Homo sapiens: one gene and its partners. The protein of the gene in region 2 purifies or fractionates together with the protein of the main gene of each other region. This does not show direct contact. Each region holds a gene or a part of one and is shown on either strand. Other genes may lie near its edges. The genes, in order: CCDC88A, METTL21A, BAG1, HSPBP1 and NCALD.

Region 1 (3,534 bases), about 150 Mb from region 2:
CTTAGTTTGTACCAAGTTGTGTTACTAAAAGGCAAAATAAAAGTAATGACTTTATTCTAAGGTTCCTCTTAGTTTTTACATACTCGGTATTCTATCTCTAACACAAAGTAGCCGTTTTAGGTTGCTTTGCATATGAAATGAAGGTACTAATGAATACACAGAAATTAAGTACCTTAGGTATCTGGTCTAATTGCCCTCCCCACCTTATAGTGAAAACAGGCCCAGAAAAACTGACCAGCCCAAGGATGAGGCCAGTTCCTTTGTCTCCCAAAGTCTAAGTGAAAATGGGAGATTCATTTGTGCAATCTATTAGATTACATTTAAACCTATTTTGGGACTGATAAAATTGACAGATGCTCTTTCTCTCCAAACCCCTAATACTTATCACAAAATGATATGACAGAATCAACTAAACAAGGTCATGGGTTATGTCTGACGATAGTTCTCTAGGGAAAATGGAAAGAAATAAAATAACACTTGGCTAAAATGATATCATTTTTAAATGATTACTAACCAGTTGTTACAAAAATCACCTCTTGGTTTTATTTCTTTTTATATTAGTTTGATACGTGAATGTTAGTCCAACTTAATTTTTGAAGGAGAAACAAAATGAAAAATGTTTTTTAAAAAACAAACAGTGGTATCTCTTGTCATGAGTTGGATGCCTGTGACTGACATCAGGTATTGCCAAGTAATAAACATTTTGCCATTCAACTCTAAATCCCTTATTAGCATTAGTTTTAAAGGAAATGTTACAGCTTTTATATTATTTGATTTGGTATTTAATAACAGTTATAAGTACAATGGTAGACACTGAAAAAGAAAACCCTTAATAGAAAAGAAAAAGACAATTTAAAATTAGATTTTGTTGAAGGGTGTTATAAGTGCAACTTTATCCATATGCATTCCTTTTAAGGCATTTTCATTGTCCAAATATCTCAACATGTACATCAAGGTTTATATTATAAAATGGGCTCCTTTTGTATTCATTCAAGACTTAAAGAAAAAATACATCTCAGGACTAAGTGTAGCTGAAAAGAAAAACACAAAAATTCACCACTCACAAAAAGTAACTTAAAATACAAAAGTCATTTAGTATACATTATTACTCCCCATTGTAATTCCAGATTTGGTACAGTATCTTTTTCATTTCCTGACATAAACCATTAAGACAGCACAGGCTGTAGTACTTCATTGTGAGGTGGCTACAACTCTATAATATGCACAGTGATTTTAAAATAGGCTTTTTGCATGCCTTGCATGAAAGGTGCTACATACAAACCTGTTTTGTGAACTCTTTGGTAACCACCAATTTAAAAATTTGGATGAAAGCATTTCCACATGGACAGATCTGAAGCACATTATTGGAGCTCTGAGCCAAAGCTATTACCCTGTATATTGATTCTTCAGTTTCCTTGAGGGGTTAGGTGTTGATTTAGAATACAGCCAGATAATTTAAAGCATGTCAGGCCCCGGTTAGGAAAATGAAAATGGCTCCGATTCGTTTCCAGTTGGCTTTATTATTGTTTGGCAGAAGTTGTTTAGGGGAGAAGAGTGGCTTCCTACAAAGTTTGCTTCTCAAGGTATACTGGAGAAAGTAAAATATTCATGTGGTTACTACTGTCTAGTCGTTTCTTGAAATGGTATGAAAAAAGTGTGATGAATATAATTGAGATTATTCATATTTTTGTAGTCTCAATGTGTTCCCTTGGTTGTCTCTTTAATTGTCCCTTCTCAGGGTCAGCCTACTCAGATTCAGTACTTTACACGTTGTTTTCAGCATTTTCTGCTTGAAGCACTAATGCACTTAACCCAGCATGTTCTGTATTTTAGGATATTAGTGTTCTGGAGAGGTCAAGCTGTAATGTCATTCGCCCTCATTGGGCTACATCACCACCCATTAAATTTCAGCTTTTCAGTAATTGTTCTGGGATGTGTTCTAGTTGTGCAAATTAGATGCTAGCTAATATAAATCTAAGTTACCCACTAACTGTATTTAGCCATAACATAATTTCTATGTTTACTTTTATCCACCTAAAAATGAATGTACATTTTTTGACATGCAATTGTCTCTAGACTGCTCTGATACCTATTACCAATGTGCTACTTGAATCCAGGGAGTTATGAGAGAGAGAGATGTTTCAAAGTCTACGGAAAAGGTTTTAGATATTTCTGTTGTGCATTATTTTTGTATGTTAGTAAGAATCCTTTGTATTTCCATTTACATAGCACCTTTCATCCAAGATTTTCAAAATGATTTAACGTTAACAGCATTTGGTGGTAAAACCTAAGTTACCGGTGGCATTGAAGTACGTAAGTAAGCTCAAGTTCTCTAAGTTCCATTTCAATTTAAACATGCTCTCTTTTTTATTGATGGTCTTTTGGAAATTAGACTGTGAACACAACATTGCTACTGGCCTACGAAAGAGAGAGAGAAAGAGGGAGAGAGAAAGAGAGAGAGAGAGAGAGAGAGAGAGAGACTTTTCTTATGGTTACTGGGTTAGTGATGAAACCCACAACTCATAAACCACACACTATGGAATATGGAATTATTCCAAAAAGTTCTTCAGAGCTGGTAATGAAAGCCTAAGAAGTACACTGTTAAAATTTTAAAAAGTCAGTATGTTTCTCATTTCAGACCTTGAAGATTACTCTGATATTGATGTTAAATAATGAATTTGCATTAATGAGTATCAATGCATTTTTTGATTTCATAAGAAAATAAAACTGTGATATAAAATTGGAACTACTAAAAAAATTGATGTTTCCCTGGGTTAACTAAATCTATTTTTTTGTGCTTCTTCCAAATGTTTAAAGGTAACAAATGCATACAAATATTTCAAAAGTACCAATAACAGTTATCAACTTTAATGTAATATCATAAAGGAGAAAAAAATCATTAATAAATGATAGCCTTAATTATAAATGAGTTTCTGGCAAAATGCAGATCATAGTAACTTATTTACATTATTTTTGCCATAAGAAAACTTCTTAAGCAACAGTCAGCTCTCAAGTTAAAAAAATGCACACGCATACATAACCCAATACCAAAGAAAAGAAATGAGTTAAAGCACAACAGCTTTATCTTGGGAATGCCATTTGCTGAAAAACCATCTTACTAAAAAAAAGTTTCAGAAAAACACTCTTTACCATGGGTTAACTTATGAATGCTTAGTGTTGCTTAATGGGAAATATGGAAAGATTAATATCACTATAAATTTTTTATAACTCCTATTTCATTATGGATTTTTCAGATTTATCTTATAAACTGAATTTCTTTTGCATCAAAATAATTGGCTTTAAGAAAAAAAAAGTATCAACACATGCAGTCTGCTAACCAAATAAGGCTCTGACATGCCAAAACAATTTTCTCTGTATCTTGCTATATAGTACATTCCACAAAATACTACAGCATTTAATTTAGGTTTACACAACTAAATATAAATGGCTAGATTTTGGCTAACACTTAGCAGAAGCATTAAGCAAACATGGATAAATTCATAAAACAAATGATGAAAAAAGCAGATTGTTCTT
Region 2 (3,519 bases):
AGTTCAAGACCAGCTTGGCCAACATGGCAAAACCCCATCTCTACCAAAAAAACTACAAAAATTAGCTGGGTGTGGTGGTGCACGCCTGTGTCCCAGTTACTGGGGGTGCTGAGGTGGGAGAATCGCTTGAGCTTGGGAGGTGGAGGTTGCAGTGAGCTGAGATTGTGCCACTGCACTCCAGCCTGGGTGACAGATGGACTGAGACTCCATCTCAAAAAAAAAAAAAAAAAAAAATTAAGCTTTCCAGATCCAGCAGGACCCCATTTAGTGTGGGCATCATCTCTGGGCACTGCTGTGGGACCCTGTGCTTGCTCTAAGGGGGAGGTTACCTTGCTGCACCAGCTAAGTTCCTGTGTGTGTTGTTAAGCTGGGAATTGAACCTCGAAGTGGGAGAGGGGTGGGTGTAGCTGACCTGAAACCCTGCAGCTACTCAAGCACATGTTGACCTTAATCGTCATCACACTGTGTTTTCATTCAGGCCATCGTTCTTTCCACATACCTGGAGATGGGAGCTGTGGAGCTCAGGGGCCGCTCTGCCGTGGAGCTGGGTGCTGGCACGGGGCTGGTGGGCATAGTGGCTGCCCTGCTGGGTGAGTGTCATGCATTGACTCCTTAGTGAGCAGAACTCATTGAGAGGTGCATTTGCTGTTTTCTTAGCGCAAAACCCTTCGTGGGTTTTCCCCTTACTGGGTTATTATCTTTTGCTTATACTTATGAGTTGTGGGCCAACTGCTGGGGTTCTTAACTCCAGTGAGGCTAACGGGCTAATTTCTCTCTCTCTAATTTCTGTCTCTCTCTCTCACACACACACACACTCTGTTATTTATACTTCCCATGGGAGATTGCTCTGCCCCCTTCAATTCTGTGATGCCAATAATACGATCTTAAAGTGAGTTGATTCAAGGAGAATAATCTTACCCATGTATAGAGTTTTTTTCACATTCAGGGGCTTTCTTTCCCATACACTATCTGATTTAACCCTGTGAGGGAGATAGAGCAGATAGTCTTTTCTTCATTGCTGAGGAAACTTTGCTGGTTTTTCTCTTGTAGGGAGGGCTAGCCCCCACTATAGTTTGTACTGACTTCTTATTTTTAAAATTGTATGAACAGTATACAGTTCTGACTTGATATCAAAGTTTGTCATTTTAAAATTTGGTATACACACATTAATTGAGGCTTGGAGCTAGAGCATTTTTAGGCTTCATTGTTATTTTTATTATTGACTATTGACTCATTTCTATAACTTCTGACATATATAGTTCAAGCTATCTAATCATAAGGGTAGACCAGCTTTCAAGATACAATGTATAATGTTTATCACTTCCATATTGTCACCTGGTGCTCTTGTTAAAATGCAGATTCTGATTTGGCAGGGCTGGACCAGGGCCTGGGAACCTGCATTTCTAACAAGCAGTAGAAATGTCAGTAGTGATGCCGACACTGCTGGTTCTCAGACTACACTTGGGTAGGAAGGATCCAGGATTCCAGAGTATTCTAAACCCATCGCATTGTCTACAGATATTTGAGGACCAGCTAAAGCCCCTCTTTTGTCCTGCCTGTTTTCCAGAAACCCAATACTTTTTCACTATTTCTTTTTCTGCTTAGCTGCTGCTTTCCAAAATTCGACAGGGAGCATGGGCAGGGGTGGTGGTTGAAAGTCTGTGTAAATTGACAGAGGTTTCCGTCCGTCTTCAACCACAGCACTTAAGTCATCGATGAAGCCCTTGCTGGTACACTGCCTTTTATTCTTTTCAGGTGAGCCTTAGAACATTCCCGTGTATGTTAGGTATTATTTTTAATTTTCATTTTTCAAACAAAGCTGGGATTCTGGGAGATGAAGCTACTTTCTGAAGTCCTGATCACTGGAGATCTGGGACTCAAAACCAGGCTTGTTAGACACAGTTAGTTGTTTTATTTTATTTTATTTTATTTTATTTTATTTATTTATTTTTTGAGATGGAGTCTCACTCTGTTGCCCAGGCTGGAGTGCAGTGGCATGATCTCGGCTCACTGCAACCTCCGCCTCCCGGGTTCAAGCAATTCTCCTGCCTTAGTTTCCCTAGTAGCTGGGACTACAGGCATGTGCCACCACGCCCAGCTAATTTTTTATTTTTGGTAGAGATGGGGTTTTACCATGTTGGCCAGGCTGGTCTCGAACTCCTGACCTCAGGTGATCTGCCCACCTTGGCCTCCCAAAGTGCTGGGATTACAGGAGTGAGCCACCGTGCCTGGCCTGTTTTATTTTTTTCTGTAACACCAACTTCTCTCTCTGCTGATATAAGAGTTACTATAAGGGGAAATGAGGTTTCTTCTGTTTCCTCCTGAGAACCAGGGCTTCATGCAAAACTTTCTTGGCTGGTGTATAGACATGTTAGTGTAGCAAAGTGCATAGGCTTAGTTATACTTGGTTTTGACATTTCTTTTCATTCTTACTAGTCGTGTGACCTTGGGCAAGTTGCTTAACCTTTAAACATTGATTACCCCATCTGTACATTGTGCATAATAGTAATATTTACTCCACAGTGAGGAACCAATGAGATTGCGTGTATAACATCTGCTGGCTCACTGAGTGACACAAAGGAAGTGCTCCACGAGTGTTGATTACTCTCTGAGTAACTGCTTTTTCTGATCTAGCAATCTGGTTCTCTGGGGTTGGGAAAGTCAGAATAAGATATTTCAGATACCACCAGAGTTACCATTAGCATTTTGGTATGTTTTGTTTCTCTCCATCTGTATTTTTAATCATAGTTGTAATTATGATTATATATATGTAAATATATATGTCTGCGTATGTGTGTTTTGTGTATCCGTATACACACACCTATACAAATGATGTTTTCACATTATGTCATAAGCATTTCTCTGCTACTGTATGATTTTCATACTCACTATTTGTAGTCACTACAAAGTGTTAGGTTGGAGAAGTTTTGCTGTTGGAGCCTGAGGGTAAGAAAATGTTAGTCTCTTCAAAATAGAATCAGTGAGTACTAGAATAGGTAGTGATTTTGAAATGTCAGGAAGAGATTAATTATTATTCTTTTTAAAGTATATTCTCTTTTTGTAACCTTAGTCATTTATTCCTGAATTTGGGGAGAACCCACCAGAAGCCTGGCGGTCCACTGTGGATGGGGCAATAAACAGGCTGGCAGGTGTCTCCGGAAGCTTACGTTCTGAGTTTAGTGGGTAGAGGTAAAGAAAGAAGATTAAAAAAAAAAAAAAAAAGCGGTGCTATGTAGATATTAATATAGGGTGATGAGACTTTCCTGTTAAAAACCAGCTGCTAATTCCTGAGTAGTTCCTGTGTTCTGAGGACTGTGCATTACACCCTTTCATTCTCACAGTCACCCTGCATGGTAAGTAGGCCTTACCTACTTATAGCGCCCTTCCAGTGGTGAAAGGGAGGCTTCTTGGAGGGTAAGTAACTTGCCTGAGGTCACAAAGCTAATGGATTGTGCTTAGAATTTGAATCCAATCTGACTCTCAAATCCTCGTTCTTAGTTTGAAAATCTCCCTGGTCTT
Region 3 (3,519 bases), on a different chromosome or scaffold from region 2:
AATAGGAGGCATTTTTATTTATATTTCATAGTGTAACATATTGTCTTTAATTTTTAAAAATATTTTATTTCTGAATTATAAAGACAATAGAAATTCATGTTTCAAAATAGAGGAATGCATGAAAAAGAAAATGTTCCCCTGGATAAAACCCCTCATAATAACACTGTGTCATCAGCATTCATTGTGGTATTGGGGTTTCCTGCAAAAAATGAGCTTTAATGGCTACTGTAGACCTTAATGCCTACTGAAGACTTTAAAGTCTTCTGTAGTGTGGTTCGTTGGTCCCTGATTCCTGAATATTTGGCTCTTTCCAGTTTCTCACTATTATGAAAAGGTTGCACTGAATATTATCGTATAGTAGTTACTGTGGAGTCGCATGTCCAATTATTTGTTTAGGATAAATATCTGGAAATGAAATTACTGGGTCATGACACCCTCTAAAAAGATACCAGTTCTCATTAGTGAACACACTTGTCTATTTCCTGTATCCTGCTGAAATTTATTTTCAGTGTTGTACAATTATTACAACTTGGCCTACCTTTCTCCTCTTTTTAGGAAAATCTCTGAAGGAAATGGAAACACCGTTGTCAGCACTTGGAATACAAGATGGTTGCCGGGTCATGTTAATTGGGAAAAAGGTAAATTGCTTTTTCCATCAGAAATCCTCAGAATCAAATGACTGAAGTCTTTTATACATGTTTCTGTTTAGAAGACCAAACTGGGGACCCAGATTCTGCATTGATAAAACACCTCTCTAAACAAATACAATCTTTATTGGTTTTACAGGATTACCAGTTTTGTTGTTCTCATACCCTCCTGCTCCTGTTGGTTAGAACTTTTGCTCTAGGAATTAGGAGCGGTTGTGCTGCCTTAATAATATGTTTTTTGTTTTGGTGGTGGAATCTTGGTCTGGTTAAAATGGTGCCTGGGACAGGTCTCATTCACTTGGAGTAGAATTTGCAAGAGTCTTTTGTTAAAATAAACTTGTAGATATTAAGAATAATCACTCTGTTCCAGTTCAGGAGCCTCTCTCCCTTTAACCAACCTTTTAACTAAAATCTCCCACAAGGGAAAACCTTCGACTGGAAAGGAAGGTTCAGACTAAAGAACTGAGGGGAAAAAAAGACAGATGAGGTCAGCAACCCTTAAGGTGATGAGAGAGGGCTGTGGCCAGCCCTGCATTGTGACACAGCAGAATTATGAGCATATGAAGTTCCCTTATTGTGAGTTAGGTGGCTGAGTAGAGAGAGGGCAGATAAACAAAGTGAAGGCAAAAAAAATCTAATCCAGACTTGGAACTGCCAGGAGACTGGAACTCAGGACTTGCCACAAAGAGAAGTGAATAATTTGGGATAGCATAACTAAGCAGAAAGCTGCTAGACCTATCTATCAATTGTTTACCTGAGAGAAGAGGGAAATATTCTAAATTTCTTGCTTCAGGGTCAGGGAGAATGGTGATGGGCAACAGGCAGAACCAAAGAGTCAAGTTTGAAGAAACTATAGGACTTTTACTTGGAGCTGACACAGAGCGTATGGAGCGAAGTGTGAACTCAAGGAAGGCACCATGGCACATGCCTATTGTCCCAGCAAGTTGGGAGTCTGAGACAGGAGGATCACTTGAGTCCAGGGGTTTGAGGCTGCAGTGAGTTATGATCATGCCTGTAAACAGCCACTGCACTCCAACCTGGGAACCGTAGTGAGACCCTATCTCAAAAAAGAAAAAAGTCTGAACTTAAGTCTAATCTACCTCTTTTGGACTGTGTGATCTCATGTTACTTTACTACATTAAGCCTCAGTTTCATCATCTGTAAAACAGCAGTACTTCCCTGATGGAGTTGTGGTAAGGCTTAAAAAATAGGTAAGGTGCTTAGGATAGTGTGTGGCATGTAGGAAGTGTTCAATAAAAGTATTCATCGTTGTTAACCAGCATCACATTAAACAGGAGCGCTCAATTGGAGGCTGCCATTTAGGAATTCCATTTAAAGGAATGGTAGAATTCCACCTTTCTTGCCATTCTGGACTCCTCACAAGTGTTTACTGAAATGTGATTACCCTCCAGGCTTCAGTCTTGGTTGTTGATCAGTATAGGGCTGAGACTGAATCTGGCACTTGGATTGTCTCCATTCTCTGCACCCAAGCTGTCAGGGCCCTCACCAGAATGTTTACCTAACACCTTCTCTCTAGTCTGGAGTCTTTGTAGATGGAAAACTTGATGTATAACCCTTTGACTTGATTTCCAAGAAGCAACAGAGTTAAAACTGTTATTTCTAGGTGAGTGGCTTCATGCAGGTGTGGTCAGGTATTTTTCCTGACAGAGGCTGCTGTTCTTGTTGATTGCTTTTTCTTTTTTCTTTTTTTTTTTTGAGACAGTCTCGCTCTGTCACCCTGGCTGGAGTACAGGTGCACGATCTCAGCTCACTACAAACCTCCACCTCCCAGGTTCAAGCTATACTCCTGCCTCAGCCTCCCGAGTAGCTAGGACTACAGGTGCACGCCAGCATGCCTGGCTAATTTTTTTGTTTTTTTAGTAGAGACAGTGTTTCACCATGTTGGCCAGGCTGGTCTTGAACTCCTGACCTCAAATGATCTGCCCATCTCGGCCTCCCAAAGTGCTGGGATTACAGGCATGAGCCACCATGCCCAGCCTGTTCTTTTTGACTATTGGCTTTATTTTCTTCTTAAACATTTTAGAACAGTCCACAGGAAGAGGTTGAACTAAAGAAGTTGAAACATTTGGAGAAGTCTGTGGAGAAGATAGCTGACCAGCTGGAAGAGTTGAATAAAGAGCTTACTGGAATCCAGCAGGTAACTCTCTTCATGGACCTTAACTTTCTGCCTTCTATCAGAGCTTCCTGGATATAACTTGTGGTTATGGGGACATGTTCTGCAGTCAGACTCCCTGGGTTCAGATCCTGGATTCACCCTTTCTCTTACTGTGAACAAGTTTATCTTTGTCTCAAGTTCCTCATCTGTAAAAATGGAATAATGGTGACATTTCCCTATTAGGATTGTTGGGAGAATTAAATAATGTAGATTGAGCTTGACACATACTAAGTGCTTTATAAGCATTTATTGTCATAGTTATTGTCAAACCCCAGCCAGCATCCATTTATGCTCACAGGAGAGCACCTGCCTTGCTAGGATCATGTATTGTCTGAAATAGAACAAGTAGCTTCTCTCTGGGCTGTTGTAATGTGTTTGGCAAGGCAAATAACATTTTGTTGGTTCATAGAAGGTCCAAGTTGAACATGATAGTGGGGTTGGGGGAGTCATCCTATTCAATTCCTTATATTAGAGATGGGGTACTAAAACCCAGTAAGGATTAGGACTAGCTCAAGACCACTTTTATTTATTTTTCCCTCTCATTTTATAGCATTAATTGGGGTGTGTTTGTGTTTTGGCTTTTTTTTTTTTTTTTTTTTTTTTGATATGGAGTCTCGCTCTGTCACCCAGGCTGGAGTGCAGTGGTGCAATCTCAGTGGCTCCCTGTAGCCTCTGCCTGCCAGGTTCAAGTGATTC
Region 4 (3,519 bases), on a different chromosome or scaffold from region 2:
TTTTACTCCAAGCAGCAGAGCTCACAGAAGGTTTGAGGAGAGCTCACTTCCATTTGGAGGGGTTGGGTGGTGTAGCAATTGAGGGTGTGGATTTGGGGTGTCACTTCCTTGGTTCATAGTTCAGGCTGTGCTGCTACATGGCAGTCTGGTTTGGGCAGGTCCTGATTACTTCCTCTTGTACGCAGGCTGGGCCGAGAGAAACCCCCAGGCCCGCACAACACCAGGCACAGAGTAAACGTAACGTGTCAGGCCTGGGAGTCAGGTGTCTTCATTTTGGACAGGGGCTGGACGGAGTTTGGGAAGCCCTCCTCTGTGAGCGCATGCAGCACCCCGAGAAGACCTGCAGTGCAGCCGCCACCCTCTAGCTTACCTTTCCCCAGTGTCTCCCCGTCTTATCCGGGCAGAGAACTCCTGCTCCAATCCGCAGGATGGCTTTTAACGACTTTGCTCTTTCATTCATTTTTTGCTTGTTCAGGAAATATCTGTTGAGCAGCTGCTGTGTGCTAAGCACTGTGCTGAGTGTCCAATCATCACAGCAGCAGCAATTTTACACCTTATTAGTAATCAAATGAGAACGAAAGCCAAAGATACCACTTCCTCCCTGGCCTCGTGCGCTCTCTGTGTATATAAATATAAATATATATGTGTATCTTCTCTGTCTTAATGAAGATGCACAGTGCTGATGAAGGTGGGCTGAGGGGAACATCCTCCCATATGACTGTTTATACCACTTACAGTCAATTCAGAATGTTGTGCAACACCACCTCTATTTCCAGAACTTTTCCATTGCCTGCAAAGGAGACCCAGCACCCATTAGGCCGGCCCTCCCCCGGTCCCCTGGCAACCACTAATCAGCGTTTTGGCTGTATGAATTTGCCTGTTCTGGACATTTCATATAGATGATTATAACGTGACCTTTTGTGTCTGGCTGATTGTGCTAAAGGCGGCGTGCCCATGTTGTGGCGTGTGTCAGAGCTTTATTCCTTTTTTTTTTTTTTTTTTTTTTGAGTCAGTCTCCCAGGCTGGAGTGCAGTGGTGCAATCTCAGCTCACTGCAACTTCCACCTGCTGGGTTTCAGTGATTCTCATACCTTAGCCTCCCAAACAGCTGGGATTACAGGTGCATGTCATCAGGCCTGGCAAATTTTTTTTTTTTTTTTTTCTGAGACAGAGTCTCACCCTGTTGCCCAGGCTAGAGTGCAATGGCGCGATCTCAGCTCACTGCAACCTGTGCCTCCCGGGTTCAAACGATTCTCCTGCCTTGCCCTTCTGAGTAGCTGGGCTTATAGGCGCCCACCACCATGCCCAGCTAATTTTTGTATTTTTAGTAGAGATGAGGTTTCACCATGTTGGCCAGGCTGGTCTTGAATTCCTGACCTCGTGATCCACCCACCTTGGCCTCCCAAAGTGTTGGGATTACAGTCATGAGCCACCGCACCTGGCCAGGCCTGGCATTTTTGTATTTTTAGTATATAACATAGCAAAAACCCTGTTTTGCTATGTTACCTGGGCTGGTCTCGAACTCCTGGCCTCAAGTGATCTGCCCACCCTGGCCTCCCAAAGTGCTGGGATTATAGGCTTGAGCCACCACGCCCAGCTGCTTCATTCCTTTTTATGGCTGAGTAATACTCCGTTGTATGGCTAGAGCAGTTTATATTTATCCCTTTATCCTTTAAGGACATTTGGGTCATTTATGAATGATGCTGCCATGAACTTGAGTATATAAGTATCTGAGTCCCTACTTCTGGTTCTTTTGGGTCTGTGCCTTGGTGCGGAATTGCTGGGTCACGGGGAATCTGTATTTCATTTTTTTAGGAACTGCCACGCTCTCCAATACCACTTTATTTACAAAAACAGGAGGTGGGCTGTGGTTTGCTGACCCTGGGGACATTCAGATTGTCACAAAGACCAGGATCAGTCCTGGCATTTAGTAGTCTGGAGCCTGGGGCCCTAATGCCCCAAATGCTGATGGAATCGAGTTGTACTAGCCTTGGGGGGACCTCTGGTTGGGTGTTTGGAGAGAGCTGCGTCCCTGTGGGAGCCGGCCTGGCTCTCCCGGCCTCAGCAGCTGTAGTGGTCAGCTTAGGGCCACCTTAGCCAAGCACCACAGACTACTGGCTTTAAAAACAGAAATGTATTTTCTCACGGCTCTGGAGGCTAGAAGTTTGAGATCAGGGTGTGGGCAGGGCTGGTTTCTCCTGAGCCCCCCTCTCCTTGGCTTGCAGAAGGCATTTTTTGTGTCCTCCCTCCATGTTGTCCCTCTGTGGGTGTCTGTGTCCTCATCTCTTCTTCTTATCAGGACGCCAGTCAGATTGCATTAGGGCCCACCCTAAGGACCTCATTTTACCTTAATGATCTCTTTAAAGATCCCATCTCCAAAAACAGTCACATTCCAAGGTACTGGGGGTCAGAACATCAACCCATGCATTTTGGGGGGCACGGTTCAGTCCCTAACATCTGGCCTCTCTCTGCTCCCCTCTGTGGCACAGACTTCTGCCAGCTGTCTGGCATGCACCTGCTGGTGGGCCGGTACCTGGAGGCGGGGGCTGCGGGACTGCGGTGGCGGGCGGCACAGCTCATCGGCACGTGCAGTCAGAACGTGGCAGCCATCCAGGAGCAGGTGCTGGGCCTGGGTGCCCTGCGTAAGCTGCTGCGGCTGCTGGACCGCGACGCCTGCGACACGGTGCGCGTCAAGGCCCTCTTCGCCATCTCCTGTGAGTGTCCGGGTGGGGCTGGGGACAGGGGTGCTGGCGGTGGGGGGGGGTGCCGGGTGGGCCCCCGGGATCTGCTGGGGCAGAGGGAGAGGCATCTCCTTCCCTCGTTTGTTCCCATGCTTGTTGGACCCCTGCACGGCTGAGTGCTGCGGGCAGAGTGAGTGGCGCACTCGGCCAAACCCCCTGCTAGCCAGGCAGCAGATGTGACCACTTCCCGGGGAGACCACCTGGCCCTCAGCGTGAGCGCTTTGCACACAGCAGTTTTTCAGCTGGGCACTGTTCACACTGGCGCTGGTTCACTCTCTCGGGGGCCGTCCTGTGCACTACAGGACATTGAGCAGCATCTGGTGGGTGGCCTCCAGGCCATGGAGAGACACTATCACCCCACCTGCCAGCGCACAAATGCCCCTAGATGTAGAAAGCCCCTTGGTCAGAACCCCTGCTGTACATGAATTCTTCTTCTTCTTTTTTTTTTCATTTAACCTATATAGAGACAAGACTTGCTTTGCTACCCAGGCTAGTCTTGAACTCCTAGCCTCAAGGGATCCTCCCGCCTTGGCCTCTGAAAGTGTTGAGGTTACAGGTGTGATCCACCATGTCCAGCCACAAATTCTTTTTATCCTAATGGCCTGTGAAGTAGGGACCGTTTGCATCCTCATTTGACAGGGGAAGAAACTGAGGTGTGGGCAGAGGGACACGGCCAGGTTTCTGCAGCTCCATAGGGCAGAGCTGGCCAGGACTCCCCCAAATACTGCCGCCTGGGACACAGGCACCAGGTCGGGCACAGGGACGGGACAAAAACCAAC
Region 5 (3,519 bases), on a different chromosome or scaffold from region 2:
AGTGCCTGTTTGTGGAATAAATGAGTTCCAAAAGGAGGTTGTCTCCTTCTTCTTCACTACTTCTTTCTGACTTTTTATGGATTGTTGTCTTAATCTCTATAAATGCTTTGTCCTTGGGGCTAGTAGAGCATAGGGCTAAAACCACTGGGCAACCAAGCAGCAGCCCACACTCACAGTTAGGCTCTCTCATTCACAAGCAGTGTCACCTGGAATAAGTCACCTAGCCTCTCTGAGTTTTCATTTATTTGCTTATGAGATAGAGAAAGCCTGCCTGCCTATCACACAGGTTGTGAAAGTTTAATAGGATGTCACATGAAAGATCATCTAGGATAAGGCATCATTTTCATTTATGGCAGCGTCTGGCCCTGACTGAATGCCAGAGCTTTACATGTTTGACTGTCTCATTTAACTCTCACATGGAATCAATAAGAGATGAACTCATATCATTAAACTCATTTTACAGATGAGAAAACTGAGGAGAACCAAAATGTTAAGTGAATTACCCACCAGCTAGTAAACAATAGAGCCAGGCTTTGAAGCCAAGCATTTTTATTCTAGTGTTTTTCCAGTGTTCATCCAACAGGACATCCAGGAGGCCAACGTGTCATAGTTCCCAACAGATTATATTCTGAGTTATCTACAAACTTTTTTGAGTCACTTGAAGATTTGTCTTTACACTCTGATTATAGTTTCCACCAGCCTATGCAGACTGCCAAGTAGGTCTCATTTTTTCCTCTTAGAAATGGTAAAATATCATATAGTCACTTATAAGAAAAACTGTGATTAGAAAAAATTTTAGCATTATCCACTTTATGGTCATTCAAGAATGTTAAGTGTGAGCAGAGAACAACAGTTCCACAACTTGATTAGTTGGTAGTTTAACATGGATGTCTGAAAGTCACATATACGTAATTTCTTAGGATTCTTAAATTAGTAAATCTAGTTTACTGAAGCAGTATTAGCATTACTATTTTAGATTGCAAAAATGCCTTAATTGTGTAGAATTGGCTTATAGAGTGTTACTTAAGAAAAATGTGATTCTACCTCTATTTCTGTTGTAGCACACTTAACAACAAACAAACATGAAAAGATATATTAGCTTTCATAGAAACATTTTTGTTCTGTAAATAGGTTAATGATATGGTAAGGCCCCTAAGATAACTGAATTAACATTGTTTATATTAATGTTACTGCTGTTTATAAGATAGTATGAATTTGTGGGCTTATCTGAATTGTAGGCCATTCCCGTGATTAAAAATAAAGACAAAACTTTGAGTTACTGTTTGCGAAAACCTTATTGTGCTATGTAGAAATATTGAACTAATATTAAAATATTTGATGCTTTGGTTTCAGGGATTGGTTTAAAATTGGAGTCCTTTTTTTATTGGTTAGTCTTACAAAAGTGTAAGCCATTATATTTTTGACTATTTAAATAAAAACAAATGTTATTTTAAATATACAGAATGGATTGATAGTATAGGAGAGTGTAAGTTCTTCATAGGAACTTTAGAAAAGAAATATATGCTAATTCAGTTTTTTTAATCTTCTGCACAGTATATATACACTTGGTAATTTTGAACTCAATTTTGTGTTTTGAAAATATGTGTTCATAATTTAGGTAATTTGCTACTTAAAGCAATAAGTCTCTGATACCTGAAAAGTAAATGTAAATGGCGACGGTGAAATAATACTGCAATTAACTTAATAGAGAAAAAATTATTAAAAGACAGCCTGTCATACCTATGTTCAACTAGCACAAAATAAATGTTTTAATGACTGACTGGAGTTATGAAAACGATTTGACCCAAGGTGCAATTTTTGTCTCCAAACTGTTTTTCTCTTAACTGCCAATTACTGTAGCATTTCCCTAATGTTATCCTGCCCCATCCCTTCGACTCAAACGGGCAGAAATTCCTGTCTTCCCAAAGAAAAAGGTATTGTCAGGCTTCCCTCTGTCTTCCTCCTCACCACCTAAGGAATGAAACTCTGTCAAATGTCCCCTAAGATTTGTGTTGTACCATCTAACCAAGTCCAGATGGTGTCTCAAGTTTAGTCCTCATACTTAGTAAAGTGTTTGTAGATGAATTCTAGGCTTAATTGTGAACACTCGTTTTCCCAATAACTTATTCCATGCTTTTCTGACTTGTTTGTGTTATGGCCTTTCTGTGCTGATGAATTTGTAAATGTGGTTTAATTACTGTTTACCAAAAAATAGCTGCACACAGATCAGTCTCAGTGGGAGACTTAGCTAAAATGTTGAGGCAATTTGTTTCTAGTGCAAAAGCAGCTAATAAATTTGAAGCACTTTTTAAACACTGGGAAAGGCACTTAAGTTTGGTTGTGAAGAAACAGTGCTTTATACATTGGAGACATAAATCATTCTTTAAGAGAGTAGATTTAAATATCAGAATGGCATTTTTCCCCAAGGCCAGGCAAGCAGCAATTTGCACAAACTGTAAAAATGGTGATTTGATTGAAAACCACACCAAAGAGATATATTCTAAAGAACTCCCCAAAAGGAAAACTTGAAATTACTTGTAAATTCCATAAAATGTCTCAGAGCTCTAGAAAGCCGGGTATTATGTATTACCGGATGTTTCTGAATTCTGGCCTCAGGCAAATTGCCAACTTAGCAACTAAATGACAGCTTTACAATTCTAATACAAACCAGCCTCTGTAACTCTGTTTTTTTAATCTCCAGGGGAAAAAAAGGACACAGAGGGAAGTGAAAGATATTAGACTGTTCAATTTATAAATTCCATTTGTTCTCCATTTGAGTTGCAGTTGAATTTTGCTTTTGCATAAAATGGTGTTTGCTTGATTCTGCCTAAAGAGGGAACTCTGGGCCAAGCGTGGTGGCTCATGCCTGCAATCCCAGCAATTTGGAAGACGGCATGAGCCCAGGAGTCTGAGACCAGGCTAGGCAACAAAGTGAGACCCCCATCTCTACAAAAAATAAAAAATTTAGCCAGGCATGGTGGTACACACCTGTAATACCAGCTATTTGGGAGGCTGAGGCAGGAGGATTGCTTAAACTCAAGAGTTTGAGGCTGCAGTGGGCCATGATTGCACCAGCACATTGCAGCCTGAGTGACAGAGTCTTAAAAAAAAAAAAAAAGGCAGGGGGAACCCAAAAAGTAAGTTCCTTCCTACAGCAGTTGGCCATACTCATAGGTGAAGTGCCCCATACTCCCATCACTTTGGACACCTGCATATGAGCAGGGCAGGTTTTGCCTCCAGTGCAGAAGTCAGAAAACAAAATCAATAAACTTGGCAATGAATGAGGATTGCTGGTCATTATCTGAACCATGAGTATTATGCAAGCAGTTTGAGTAGCGTGAGATACAAACACCACCCCGTAGAAGTTTATTTTTAGTGAGGCCACCAGACAGGCCTCACTAAATTCAATATAAGAGATCCTAAGCTCAAGTCTTAACCACCAGATAGTTTTCAGTGTGTAAAATAGCGTTCTGAAAACCAAGCCCCCGTGCTTCTGGCAGTGAGCCTCCTTTTCCAAAA

Evidence for each region.
Region 1: the proteins of METTL21A (region 2) and CCDC88A purify together in Homo sapiens (affinity purification with mass spectrometry, with the first as the bait; one study listed by BioGRID). This does not show direct contact.
Region 3: the proteins of METTL21A (region 2) and BAG1 purify together in Homo sapiens (affinity purification with mass spectrometry; one large-scale study listed by BioGRID and IntAct). This does not show direct contact.
Region 4: the proteins of METTL21A (region 2) and HSPBP1 purify together in Homo sapiens (affinity purification with mass spectrometry; 3 studies listed by BioGRID and IntAct, with this or other methods). This does not show direct contact.
Region 5: the proteins of METTL21A (region 2) and NCALD purify together in Homo sapiens (affinity purification with mass spectrometry, with the first as the bait; one study listed by BioGRID). This does not show direct contact.

The regions. Positions count from the first base shown.
Region 1 is NC_000002.12:55,287,325-55,290,858, forward strand, and holds the end of CCDC88A (girdin), read right to left. Parts: 3' UTR 518-3,534; downstream 1-517. UniProt on the Homo sapiens protein: Bifunctional modulator of guanine nucleotide-binding proteins (G proteins). Acts as a non-receptor guanine nucleotide exchange factor which binds to and activates guanine nucleotide-binding protein G(i) alpha subunits.
Region 2 is NC_000002.12:207,618,877-207,622,395, reverse strand, and holds part of METTL21A (protein N-lysine methyltransferase METTL21A), read left to right. Parts: intron 1-478; coding exon 479-590; intron 591-1,605; coding exon of another isoform or gene 1,606-1,655; exon of another isoform or gene 1,656-1,701; coding exon of another isoform or gene 1,702-1,755; intron 1,756-3,519. UniProt on the Homo sapiens protein: Protein-lysine methyltransferase that selectively trimethylates residues in heat shock protein 70 (HSP70) family members. Contributes to the in vivo trimethylation of Lys residues in HSPA1 and HSPA8.
Region 3 is NC_000009.12:33,258,206-33,261,724, reverse strand, and holds part of BAG1 (BAG family molecular chaperone regulator 1), read left to right. Parts: intron 1-555; coding exon 556-638; intron 639-2,691; coding exon 2,692-2,805; intron 2,806-3,519. UniProt on the Homo sapiens protein: Co-chaperone for HSP70 and HSC70 chaperone proteins. Acts as a nucleotide-exchange factor (NEF) promoting the release of ADP from the HSP70 and HSC70 proteins thereby triggering client/substrate protein release.
Region 4 is NC_000019.10:55,273,592-55,277,110, reverse strand, and holds part of HSPBP1 (hsp70-binding protein 1), read left to right. Parts: intron 1-2,488; coding exon 2,489-2,713; intron 2,714-3,519. UniProt on the Homo sapiens protein: Inhibits HSPA1A chaperone activity by changing the conformation of the ATP-binding domain of HSPA1A and interfering with ATP binding. Interferes with ubiquitination mediated by STUB1 and inhibits chaperone-assisted degradation of immature CFTR.
Region 5 is NC_000008.11:101,721,454-101,724,972, reverse strand, and holds part of NCALD (neurocalcin-delta), read left to right. Parts: intron 1-3,519. UniProt on the Homo sapiens protein: May be involved in the calcium-dependent regulation of rhodopsin phosphorylation. Binds three calcium ions.